3 linked regions of the Homo sapiens genome follow. The protein of the gene in region 1 purifies or fractionates together with the protein of each later gene. This does not show direct contact. Each region holds a gene or a part of one and is shown in the gene's direction. Other genes may lie near its edges.

Evidence for each region.
Region 2: the proteins of GATD3 (region 1) and HMGCL fractionate together in Homo sapiens (co-fractionation; one large-scale study listed by BioGRID). This does not show direct contact.
Region 3: the proteins of GATD3 (region 1) and DBT purify together in Homo sapiens (affinity purification with mass spectrometry; 2 studies listed by BioGRID and IntAct, with this or other methods). This does not show direct contact.

What each region holds. Positions count from the first base shown.
Region 1 is NC_000021.9:44,136,645-44,140,292, forward strand, and holds part of GATD3 (glutamine amidotransferase-like class 1 domain-containing protein 3, mitochondrial isoform 1 precursor), read left to right. Parts: intron 1-532; coding exon 533-652; intron 653-3,605; coding exon 3,606-3,648.
Region 2 is NC_000001.11:23,811,838-23,815,485, reverse strand, and holds part of HMGCL (hydroxymethylglutaryl-CoA lyase, mitochondrial isoform 1 precursor), read left to right. Parts: intron 1-1,147; coding exon 1,148-1,296; intron 1,297-3,648. UniProt on the Homo sapiens protein: Mitochondrial 3-hydroxy-3-methylglutaryl-CoA lyase that catalyzes a cation-dependent cleavage of (S)-3-hydroxy-3-methylglutaryl-CoA into acetyl-CoA and acetoacetate, a key step in ketogenesis. Terminal step in leucine catabolism.
Region 3 is NC_000001.11:100,208,288-100,211,935, reverse strand, and holds part of DBT (lipoamide acyltransferase component of branched-chain alpha-keto acid dehydrogenase complex, mitochondrial isoform 1 precursor), read left to right. Parts: intron 1-811; exon of another isoform or gene 812-896; intron 897-1,164; coding exon 1,165-1,242; exon of another isoform or gene 1,243-1,243; intron 1,244-3,648. UniProt on the Homo sapiens protein: The branched-chain alpha-keto dehydrogenase complex catalyzes the overall conversion of alpha-keto acids to acyl-CoA and CO(2).

The sequences.
Region 1 (3,648 bases):
CGAGGAAGAAGCCATAGCTGCCTCCTGGGGCTGTGCTTCTCACCAGTGGGGACCCCTGTGATTTCTTTTCCTGCCTGGGACCCTGGCTTCTGCACCTGGACTTGCACCTTCGGCCCCCACACCTGGGGGCTAGCAGCTTCCTGCGGTGGCTGGCCTTCGGGTTGCTTCACTGGTCCTGAGTCCTGGCTTCTTACCTTCCCCTCTGAGTCCCACCGTCCTGATGAGTGCACAGAATTCTGTCTGCTTTAGACACTCGGAGAGACTTCCATTTCCCATGGGCCTTGACTGCAGAAGATTCAGAGTGATTTGGCGCAGGTTCTGAAGTGCTGATCGGAAGAGCCCAGCATAGATTTAGCGTTGCTAGAACCATGTTGTCTTTCCAGGTAGTGACCAAACATGCTGACCTGGAAGTAAGTCCCCGTGTGGCTGAGAGCCACGTGTGTGGAGCGTGTTGCCTGTGGGCTGTGCCCCTGCCGCGCTCCACAGTCCTTCACCTGCATGCTGAGGCTTTTTGCCCTGTGCTCTTTCCCAGGAATGTTTTGACCGAGTCTGCGAGGATCGCCCGTGGCAAAATCACAGACCTGGCCAACCTCAGTGCAGCCAACCATGATGCTGCCATCTTTCCAGGAGGCTTTGGAGCGGCTAAAAACCTGTGCGTATTTGAGCTCCAAGGTCTTCCGCTTTCCATGTGGAGCAGATGGGAAGGGGGTGCACCTGTCTGCTGTCCAATGTGGTCAGTGGAGCGGCGATGGGAGGGGGTGGTGATAGGAGCAGTCTCTGGGTTTAGGGTCTGGGCAGGGCACGTGCCTGCCCTCTGACTTGGGAGCTGTTCTTAGGGTTGGGTCTTAGGTAGCGTTGTAGCGAGCCATGCTTTTGTTTCTGCTTCTCTGCTGCCTCTTCTCTCAGCATTCCTGGTACCCAGCAGCTTGTCAGAGTGGGTTTGGGGCTCCCTCTTATCTCATCACTGTGCTGTAGGTCTCGTCACGTTGAAATCAGTCTCTGAGTATTTACTCCTTGCAAGTGCCAGTTTTTTTTCTCTCTCTCTCTCTTTTTTTTTTTTTTTTTCTGTAGAGATGAGGTCTTGGTCTGTTGCCCAGGCAGGGATGCAGTGGCACGATCCTAGTTCACTGCAGCCATGATCTCCTGGGCTCAAGCCATCCTCCAGCCTCATCCTCCTGAGTAGCCGAGACTATAGGCGCATGTCACCATGCCCATGGTTTTGTTTTTTTTTTTTTTTGGCCATGTATGTAGCCCAAATTGGTCTGGAACTTCTGGGCTCGAGTAACCCTCCTGCCTCCCAAAGTGCTGGGATTCCAGGCCTGAGCCACCGCGCCTGGCCCCAATTCTCTTATGGAACCTTGCAGGATCAGAAATGGGTTTCCTTCTTGGTAGTTTGGGCGGCGGTCCTGACAGGAAGAAGGGAGGCCGCCTTGGCGTGGCTGTTTTGGTAGCTGGACCGTGAATCATGGAGGCCTGGCTGGCTCCCACACGGTGGCGTCCTTGAGTTCCAGATCCTCTTTCTGTTCTCTGTGTCTCCTCTCTCTCTTTGCACATTCATGGAGGTTCTCTGGGCACCGCCCCCATGGCCCTGCCTGAGAGGTGGAGGTGGTGCCAGGCTGACCCTCCAGGGACAGCTCTGCCACCTGCAGGAGCACTGGCCACAGTGCATCGGAGCGTGCAGGTGGCTTCTGTGCCATGGTGTGGGTGGCAGCCCCAGCACGGCCGGCCCCGGTCGGCAGCTCCTGTTTCAAGGGCAGGTTGGAGGCTGGCTGGCCGCTTGCCCCACCCTGGGCAGCCTGCACCCAGAGTCGAGGGGTAGGCAGTCTCCATCCGAAGAATGCGCCCCTCCTTATCCCGAAACCTCAGAGGCCTCCTTCCTCAGATGCCAGCTGTTTTCTCAGTGCCCTTGGCCGTGCCCTCACCCCTCTCTCACCGGAAGCCCCACCCCAGCCTGTCGTCCCCGGTCTCCTGAAAGCCAGCAAGCCTCGTCGGTGCCGCCCACACCCCTGACCTCACGCAGCCCCACGTCAGGCTCGATCTTTTGTCCAGTTGTCCCTGCGTCGCTGCCGTCTCCACGAGGCTCTGACCACTGACACCGTGTGTGGCGGGGCGCAGGGGCAGCTGGAGGGTGTGCTGGGGGCTCCGTGCCCTGGCATGGCTCCTCCACATTTTGCCAACCCAGAGGCACAGGCGTGAGGTGTGTGGTGGTTCTCAGGGTCAGTGGGTCTTGGCCTTGGCTTTCAAGGTGTTGATGGGCCCTGGGACTGATGTGCCCGTGTGTCTGAGCCCACGTCCCCTGGGCGAAGCTCCCATTTTCACTGACCTGTCCAGAGCGTTCTGGGTGAGCCTGCCCTGCGTGTCCATGGTGCGGCGCGCTCTAATGAGCTGCAGCCGTGGCCACTCTGCACCCTCTGAGACAGTCACCCATGGGGACGGCGAACACCCACTGCCTCCAGAAGATTCCCAGCACTCTGCCAGCAAAGCCATGTGGAAAATGCTGGGGCAGAGGACTGGGGTGCGTGAGGGTGGCGTAGAGCCCAGGGGTGGGTTCGTGGGAAGGTGTGTCCACTTGTAGATTTGGTGGCATTGCCAGATCACACGCCCCATGGGCAGTGTGGAGAGACCTCCCCTGCCCCGCGTGCCCTCCACAGCTCCTGCTCCTCGGCCTGAGGTGTGGATGCTGGTGTCGCAGGTAAACTGGCGTTTCTTTCACGGTCATCGAAGCAAGAGTGCTTGGTATGCCTGGAGGCCGACTGCGTTTCTTTTTTTGGGAACTCCTGGAGTTTCCTGCTGCCCCTTTGTTTTAAGGAAAAACTCTCACACCGTGTTTCTCCTCCTCCCACCACAACAGTTGTCCACACAGAAGGTGGGTGTGAAGGGTCTTCCCCATGCACCACGCAGGGGTCGCTGCTGCCTTCTAATTCAGTTCCAACAGTATGGACCCGGGGTAGCGTCCGATCGCACGGGTTGAGGGCTCCGTCCCCAAAACTGCCCTCTGACACATACCGGTAAACTGTCTGAGCCTCTGGAACTGACCAATTGGCTTCAAGTTGGGGTTCCCACAACCCCGTTTGCTGGCGTGGCTCACAGTGCTCAGGGAAACATGACGTCAGCATTCTCCCCCGGGGAGTGGGGGACCCTCTCAGGAGAGGGTCCTGAGACCCACAGTCAGAAAGGCGGGGAACATTAGAGTCCTGCTTTGGGGCAGGTAAAGGGCAGGCGGGAAGGTCAGAGGCTGCCCGAGGCCCGACACAGCCAACGTCGTAACAGAAAGCTAACAAGCAGCACGGGAGTTAGGAGCCGGAAACCAGCGTCTGAGTCTCAGCACCGCAGCCCGGGTTCTGCCAGCTGCTCCGGAAGGTTCCAGGGCGTGGGCCCTCTCGCCCTGGTGGCCTCCTGCTGCACCACTTCCTGATCCTCCTGCTTCCTATGCTTATTTCTGTTTAAAAAACAGGAAAATATGTTCACATCAAACGCGCATATGTGCAGCCATGCCCATGTCCCTTGCTGCAGCTGACTGAGGGTCTGGAGCTGTGCCTAGGAAGCCCCCCAGGAATAGACCCTGGTTGTGAGGCTGTCTGAGGAGGCCTTTTGTCTCCCGGTAGGAGCACGTTTGCCGTGGACGGGAAAGATTGCAAGGTGAATAAA
Region 2 (3,648 bases), on another chromosome or scaffold:
AAGCACTACAAATTGGGTGGCTTAAAAACAACAGAAATTTATTCTCTCACAGTCTGGAGGCCAGAAGTCCCAAATCAAGGTGTCAGCAGGATTGGTTCCTTCTGAGGCCTCTGGGAGAATCTGTCCTATGCCTCTCTGCTGGGGTCTGGTGGTGGCCAGCAGTCCTTGGCATTGCCTGGCTTGTAGATGCATCTCTCCAGTCTTTGCCTCCGTTTTCCCAGGGCCACCTTTTCTGTGTCTCTGTGTCTTCACTTGGCCATCTTTTGTTTTTGTTTTTTTTAGACAGAGTCTTGCTCTGTCGCCCAGGCTGGAGTACAGTGGCATGATCTCGGCTCACTGCAAGCTCCACCTCCCAGGTTCAAGTGATTCTCCCACCTCAGCCTCCCGAGTAGCTGGGACTACAGGCGTGTGCCACCACGACCGGCTAATTTTTTGTATTTTTAGTAGAGATGGGGTTTCACTGTGTTAGCCAGGATGGTCTCGATCTCCTGACCTCATGATCTGCCCGCCTCGGCCTCCCAAAGTGCTGTGATTACAAGCGTGAGCCACTGCGCCCGGCTGGCCATCTTTTTTTAAGGTCACCAGTCGTATGGGATTAGGGGCCCACCCTATTCCAGTATGGCTTCATCTTAACTAATGATATCTGCAATGACGCTGTTTCCAAATAAGGTCACATTCTGAGGTGCTGGGTTTTAATCCTTCAACATATATTTTTAGGAGGACACAATTCAACCCATAACATTCACATAACATAAAATTTACCTTAAGAGAAATTTTTTGCTACTCTGTGTCAGTGTTCTTTAAAGAGAAAAGTGCTGGCCGGGCATGATGGCTGACACCTGTAATCTCAGCACTTTGGGAGGCTGAGGTGGGTGGATCACAAGGTCAGGAGTTCGAAACCAGCCTGACCAACATGGTGAAACGCTGTCTCTACTAAAAATACAAAAATTAGCCGGGCGTGGTGGTGGGCTCCTGTAATCCCAGCTACTCAGGAGGCTGAGGCAGGAGAATCGCTTGAACCCAGGAGGTGGAGGTTGCAGTGAGCCGAGATCATGCCACTGCACTCCAGCCTGGGCAACAAAGCAAGACTCCATCTCAAACAAAAAAAGAGAAAAGTGCTGAAAGGAGTTCACCTGGATGTTGGCAGGTTGCTGCTGGAGCCAAGGAAGTAGTCATCTTTGGAGCTGCCTCAGAGCTCTTCACCAAGAAGAACATCAATTGTTCCATAGAGGAGAGTTTTCAGAGGTTTGACGCAATCCTGAAGGCAGCGCAGTCAGCCAATATTTCTGTGCGGGGGTGAGTCAGAGCACATTGGTATCCTTTCCTCTGTACCGTTCTGGAATGGGGCTAGACTCTGACTCAAGTGGTCCTCCTGCCACAAACTTCTTATCCTGGGTGGGGGCAGCCTGAGCTCCACACCTAGACATCTTTTCCCAAATAAGTGTGGTCAGAAGAAATCCTAGGAAGTACTTTCTCTCAAACCTGAATTTTGGGTCAGTTTACCAGCTAGCCATGATAGCATGCGCCTGTAGTCCTAGCAACTTGGGAGACTGAGGCAGAGGATGGCTTGAGACCAGGAGTTTGAGGCTGCAGTGAGCCATGATAGCACCACTGCTATCATGCTAAAGGAATCTAGCAGGACAGGACACTAACGGGTTTGTGGAGGTCAGTTGAGTCCTGGCTTTATCACTAGCTCTTCACACATCCCTGGAGAATTACCTAGGCTTCTATGTTTCCAACATCACATCTCTAATATCAGTGGTTCCAGGCATTGTGTGTGTATTATCTATAATAATTGAAACCTCACAATAGCCCAGCAGGGAGTAGGTTATCCTCACTTTATAAATTACAAAACCGAGGCCCAGGAAGGGCGAATACTCTACTGTAAGGTCACACTGCTGTGCAAATTGCAGCCAGAGGCCGGGCATGGTGGCTCACACCTGTAATCCCAGCACTTTGGGAGGACAAGGCAGGTGGATCACCTGAGGTCAAGAGTTCAAGACCAGCCTGGCCGACATGGTGAAACCCCATCTCTACTAAAAATACAAAAATTAGCTGGGCGTGGTAGTGGATAGAAACCCCGTCTTTACTAAAAATACAAAAATTAGCTGTAATTCCATCTACTTGGGAGGCTGAGGCAGGAGAATCACTTGAATCTGGGAGGCGGAGGTTGTGGTGAGCCGAGATCACACCACTGTACTCCGGCCTGGGTGACAGAGCAAAACTCCATCTCAAAAAAAAAAAAAAAAAAAAAAAAACATTGCAGCCAGAATGATCGTTGAAAAGTGCACATCTGGGCTGAACATGGTGGCTCATGCCTGTAATCCCAGCACTTTGGGAGGCCGAGGCGGGCAGATCACCTGAGGTAAGGAGTTTGAAACCAGCCTGGCCAACATGGGGAAACCCCATCTCTACTAAAAATACAAAAATTAGCCGGGCGTAGTGGCATGCACCTGTAATCCCAGCTACTCAGGAGGCTGAGGCGGGAGAATCACTTGAACCCAGGAGGCAGAGGTTGCAGTGAGCCAAGATCACGCCACTGCACTCCAGCCTAGGTGACAGAGTGAGACTCTGTCTCAAAAACAAAAACCAAAAAAACCCCACAAAAGTGCACATCTGATCACATCCCTCCTGGTTAAAAAGCTTTCAGTGACTAATCAAGTGCAGACTTTTTAATGAGGTTTACAAACCCTGCATGATTTGGTCCCGGCTCTTTTCTGTAGCCGTACCGTTCAAGTTCCCTTCTGGCCCCTGCTTCCTCTTCATGGTACACTCCAGCCCAACTGGAACTTCTTTCTGTTTGTCACATGCCTCCACTCTTGCCTCTGGGCCTTTGCACGTGCTCTCTCTAGACTCAGAACAACCTTCCTTGGGAGGCCAAGGTGGGCAGGTTGCTTCAGCCCAGGAGTTTGTGACTGGCTTGGGCCTGGGCAACATGGTGAAACCCCAGCTCTACAAAAAAAAAGCCAGGTGTGGTTGCATGTGCCTGTAGTCCCAGCTACTCAGGAGGCTAAGGTGGGAAGATCACCTGAGCCTGGGAGGTCCAAGCTGAAGTGAGCCAAAATCATGCCACTGCACACCAGCATGGGTGAAAGAGTAAGACTCTGTCTCCAAAAAATAAAGAACACTTCCTCCACATCATGCTTCTCGGGGATAACTCCTGCTCATCCTTCAGGTCTTCTTGTGGGAGTCAGTTCCTCTGAGAAGCTGCTCCAGTCCTTCAGCTGGAGTTAGTGCCCTTCTCTGGGACCCCATGGTGTCGGGACATCCTCTAAATGTAGCACTTAGCTGCTTGTTAAATTCCCTCCCTGCCCCACCCCACTAGACCGTGCACTCCATGAGGGCAAAGCCCACATCTCTCCCAGTCCCTGGGGTGCTCCACTCTCCCAGCTTGGGGCCTAGCCACAGTGGGCACTCAGTCACTGACGGGCAGGTGGATGAATGGGGAAGCAGGTGCTCCAGTAACATTGGCCCAACTCCCAGATCTGTGTCTTTCTAAGCATCTCTCTTACCTTTTTCTTGCTCAGCAGTGGTTGGAGAATAAGTGGGAGCATCAAAATGGAAAAGTACACTGAGATCTTTGAGTCTGAAATTATTTATCTGTTGAACATTTATTATGCCTCTTAATATGCAGAATTTGCTTGACTC
Region 3 (3,648 bases), on another chromosome or scaffold:
CCTGGGCATGGTGGCACACGCCTATAGTTCCAGCTACTCGGGAGGCTGAGGCAGGAGGGTCACTCGAGCCAAGGACGTTGAGGCTACAGTGAGCTGAGATCATGCCACTGCACTGCAGCCTAGGTGACAAAGAAAGACCCTGTCTCAAAAACAAACAAGAAAAACTTCCAAGTCATAAAAATTAAGGAACTCGTAGCAGTTCTTTTAATTATATTTTTCTTCAGTTGATCTACTCTCTTAACCTGTCCTAACTAATGAAAATGAAATGTCTCTATATATTTAAACTTTTTTCTTAACTCTCTAGTTCAAGAATTTGATTTTTTTCCCATCAAGACCCCGATGCACTGAGAAGAATAACACAATGCATGTAAAGAACTTTAACAGGGACCAGACAAGGGCAGTGGGGGAGGGAATTCTTTTTAAGAATGATCTTAAGCATTTTTATTTTGCTATCTTTTAAATTCAATACAATGCATGGCCACCACATGTAAGGTATGAAACTTGATTATTAGATCCCAAAAACAGATTATCAAGAACATTTTGGGTACAGTTAGGGAAATCTGAATATGGACAGGAGAGAAATGGTATTAAGTGACAAAAGGGAGAAGGCAGCAGAGAGGGAAAATATAAATGCTATTCAGTGAGACTTGAGCTGTAAAGTAAATGTTCAGGACATCTCTGCCCTTCAGCTGGCCAAGGACACCAAGTAGCAAACTGGCATCTACTGGTCAGTGCGCTTTGAAATCCTCGTTACGTGTTCTTTCCACACAGAGAAATAGCTTACCTGCTTTTTTTGTGTTTTGATTCCTAGTATTACTTCTCATGGAAATCTTAAGATCAACATGTCAGTGAGGAAATCACCTAGAATTTAGACATTTTCTTTGGAACTTTGGCTGGTCTGTATCATTATTTTGAAAATCTCCTTGATGTTTACAAGCTACCTGACTACTTTATCTTTTATTCTTTAATGATTAGGGTGACCTAGTTCCACATGGCCTGAAGGTAACATTGGCAGTAATGTGACTAGGTACATGTAGACTTGAAATTAAACTCAGCATAAATAAGAGTTCTCTCTCTCCCTCCTTTTATACCTCTTATTGTTTCAAATTCTCTATCCTTTCTAAGTTAAAAGTACTAAAATTGCATTCTTTTTCTGTTAAACAGGCTGCTTCCTTGGGATTACTACAGTTTCCTATCCTTAACGCTTCTGTGGATGAAAACTGCCAGAATATAACATATAAGGTTGGCTATGCAGAGTAAAAATGTTCTTATTATTAATAGAAGATGGGGCAAATGTGCTTGTAGATTAGAGACTTCTATTGTACCTCAAATAGTGATCTTTTTTAGACTAGAATTAAAGGTATGGGGTAAAACATTAAACTTAAGTCTAATTCATTGTTGTTGTTTTTGTGTTAATAATACTGTTTAGAGATTCTTAAAACTATTTTTAAGCTTTTTTTTTTCCTGCTTAAAATAATGGAAATACATAGCTGTATGGCAGATTATGTTACCCACTCTACTTACCCTCTCAAAAAGAAGCAGCTCTTTCAAAATTGAATTCCTGGAATTTTAATATTATTATTCTTATTCTTCTTCTTCTTCTTCTTCTTATTATTATTATTATTATTGGCAGAGTCTCACTCTGTCACCAGTTTGGAATGCAGTGTTGTGATTGTGGCTCACTGCAGCCTCAACCTCTCAGGCCCAAGCAATCCTTCTGCCCCAGCCTCCTGTGTAGCTGGGACTATAGGCATGCGCCACTATGCCCAACTAATTTTTAAATTTTTTGTAGAGACGTGGTCTCATTATGTTGCCCAGGCTGGTCTTGAACTTCTGGTCTAAGCAATCCTCCTGCCTCAGCCTCCCAAAGTGCTGGGATTACAGGCATGAACCACTGTGCCTGGCAAATTCCTGGAATTTTAATATTAAGAATAATTTAAGTGAGAAAAATAATAAAAGTTTGAATTCAATTTGAGTAAACTCTTCTGTGAGTAGTGAAAGTTTCTTAAGACCGAAAACTCTTTTTGAGATGCCTTTCCTGAAGTTTACTTATCATTAGAAGTGCACAACCAGAGGCTGGGCACGGTGGCTCACGCCTATAATCCCAGCACTTTGGGAGGCTGAGGCGGGTGGATCATGTGAGGTCAGGAGTTTGAGACCAGCCTGGCCAACATGGTGAAACCCTGTCTCTACTAAAAATACAAAAATTAGCCAGCCGTGGTGGCCAGCGCCTATAGTCCCAACTACTCAGGAGGCTGAGGTGGGAGAATTGCTTGAACCCAGGAGGCGGAGGTTGCAGTGAGCCAAGATTGTGCCACTGCACTCCAGCGTGGGCGACAAGAGCAAAACTCCATTTCAAAAAGAGAATTAAAAAAAGAAAAAAAAGAAAAGACATGTACAACCAGAAAGTGAGCTTAGATATTCTGGGAGGTCAGCTCCCATACGGTTAATACAGTCAGCTGTATTAATTTTAATTTTAATATCTCCTGATTAAGTATATACTTATTAAAAAAATTTCAGGCAAGAAAATGATGTTGGCCGGGTGTGGTGGCTCCTGCCTGTAATCCCAGCACTTTGGGGGACAGAGGTAGGAGGATGGCTTGAGCCTAGGAATTCAAGACCAGCATGGGCAACAAAGTTAGGAGGCCCCATCTCTACAGAAAAAAAAAATTAGCCAGGCATGGTGGTGCATGCCTATAGTTTTAGCTGCTTGGGAGGCTGAGGCAGGAGAATCATATGATACCTGGGAGATGGAGGTTGCAGTGAGTTGTGATCATGCCACTGCACTCCAGCCTAGGTGACAAAGTGAAACCCTGCCTTTGTCAAAAAAAAAAAAAGAAAAGAAAAGAAAAGAAAAAAGAAAACAAAGATGTTTACCCTCAATTCCATGACCCTAAGATAGCTCACTGTTTATGTTGAGATATACATCTTTCTAGGATTTCATTTTTACATACTTTTTACAAGATATAGAATTATTTATATTTTCTTTAACTTGCTTTTTTCTTTTTCTTTTTTTTTTTTTTTTGATACAGAGTCTTGCTCTGTTGCCTATCTAAAGTATTCCCCATAGAGAATATCTATGCTGTGGTGTAATCATCGCCTCACTGCAGTGTCCACCTCCCACCGCAGCCTTCTGAGTAGCTGGGACTATAGGCACGTGCCACCATGCCCAGCTAATTTTTGTACTTTTTTTTTTTTTTTGTAGAAATGGGGTCTTGCCATGTTGCCCAGGCTGGTCTCTAACTCCTGGGCTCAAGTGATCCACCCACCTCAGCCTCCCAAAGTGCTGGGTTACAGGCATGAGCCACTGTGCCCAGCCTCTTCATTTTCATTTACTATATTGTAGACATCATTGTCAACAAGTATAGCTTTGTTATTTATTTAGCCAGTGACCTATTTATAAACATCATGATTATTTGCAGTTTCTCAAACTTATAAACAGTGTGTACTCAACATCCCTGTGTATCCCTACATACTTCTGCACTTAGTTCCTTAACACGAATTTTTATAAATGTTGGTTCATGTTGTCATATGTTCTCCAGAAAGTCTCTACAGTTTAAGTATCCGTTACCTGAAATGCTTGGGACCAGAAGCGTTTTTGGATTTAAGATTTTTTTGGATTATGGAATATTTGCATATACAAAGGAG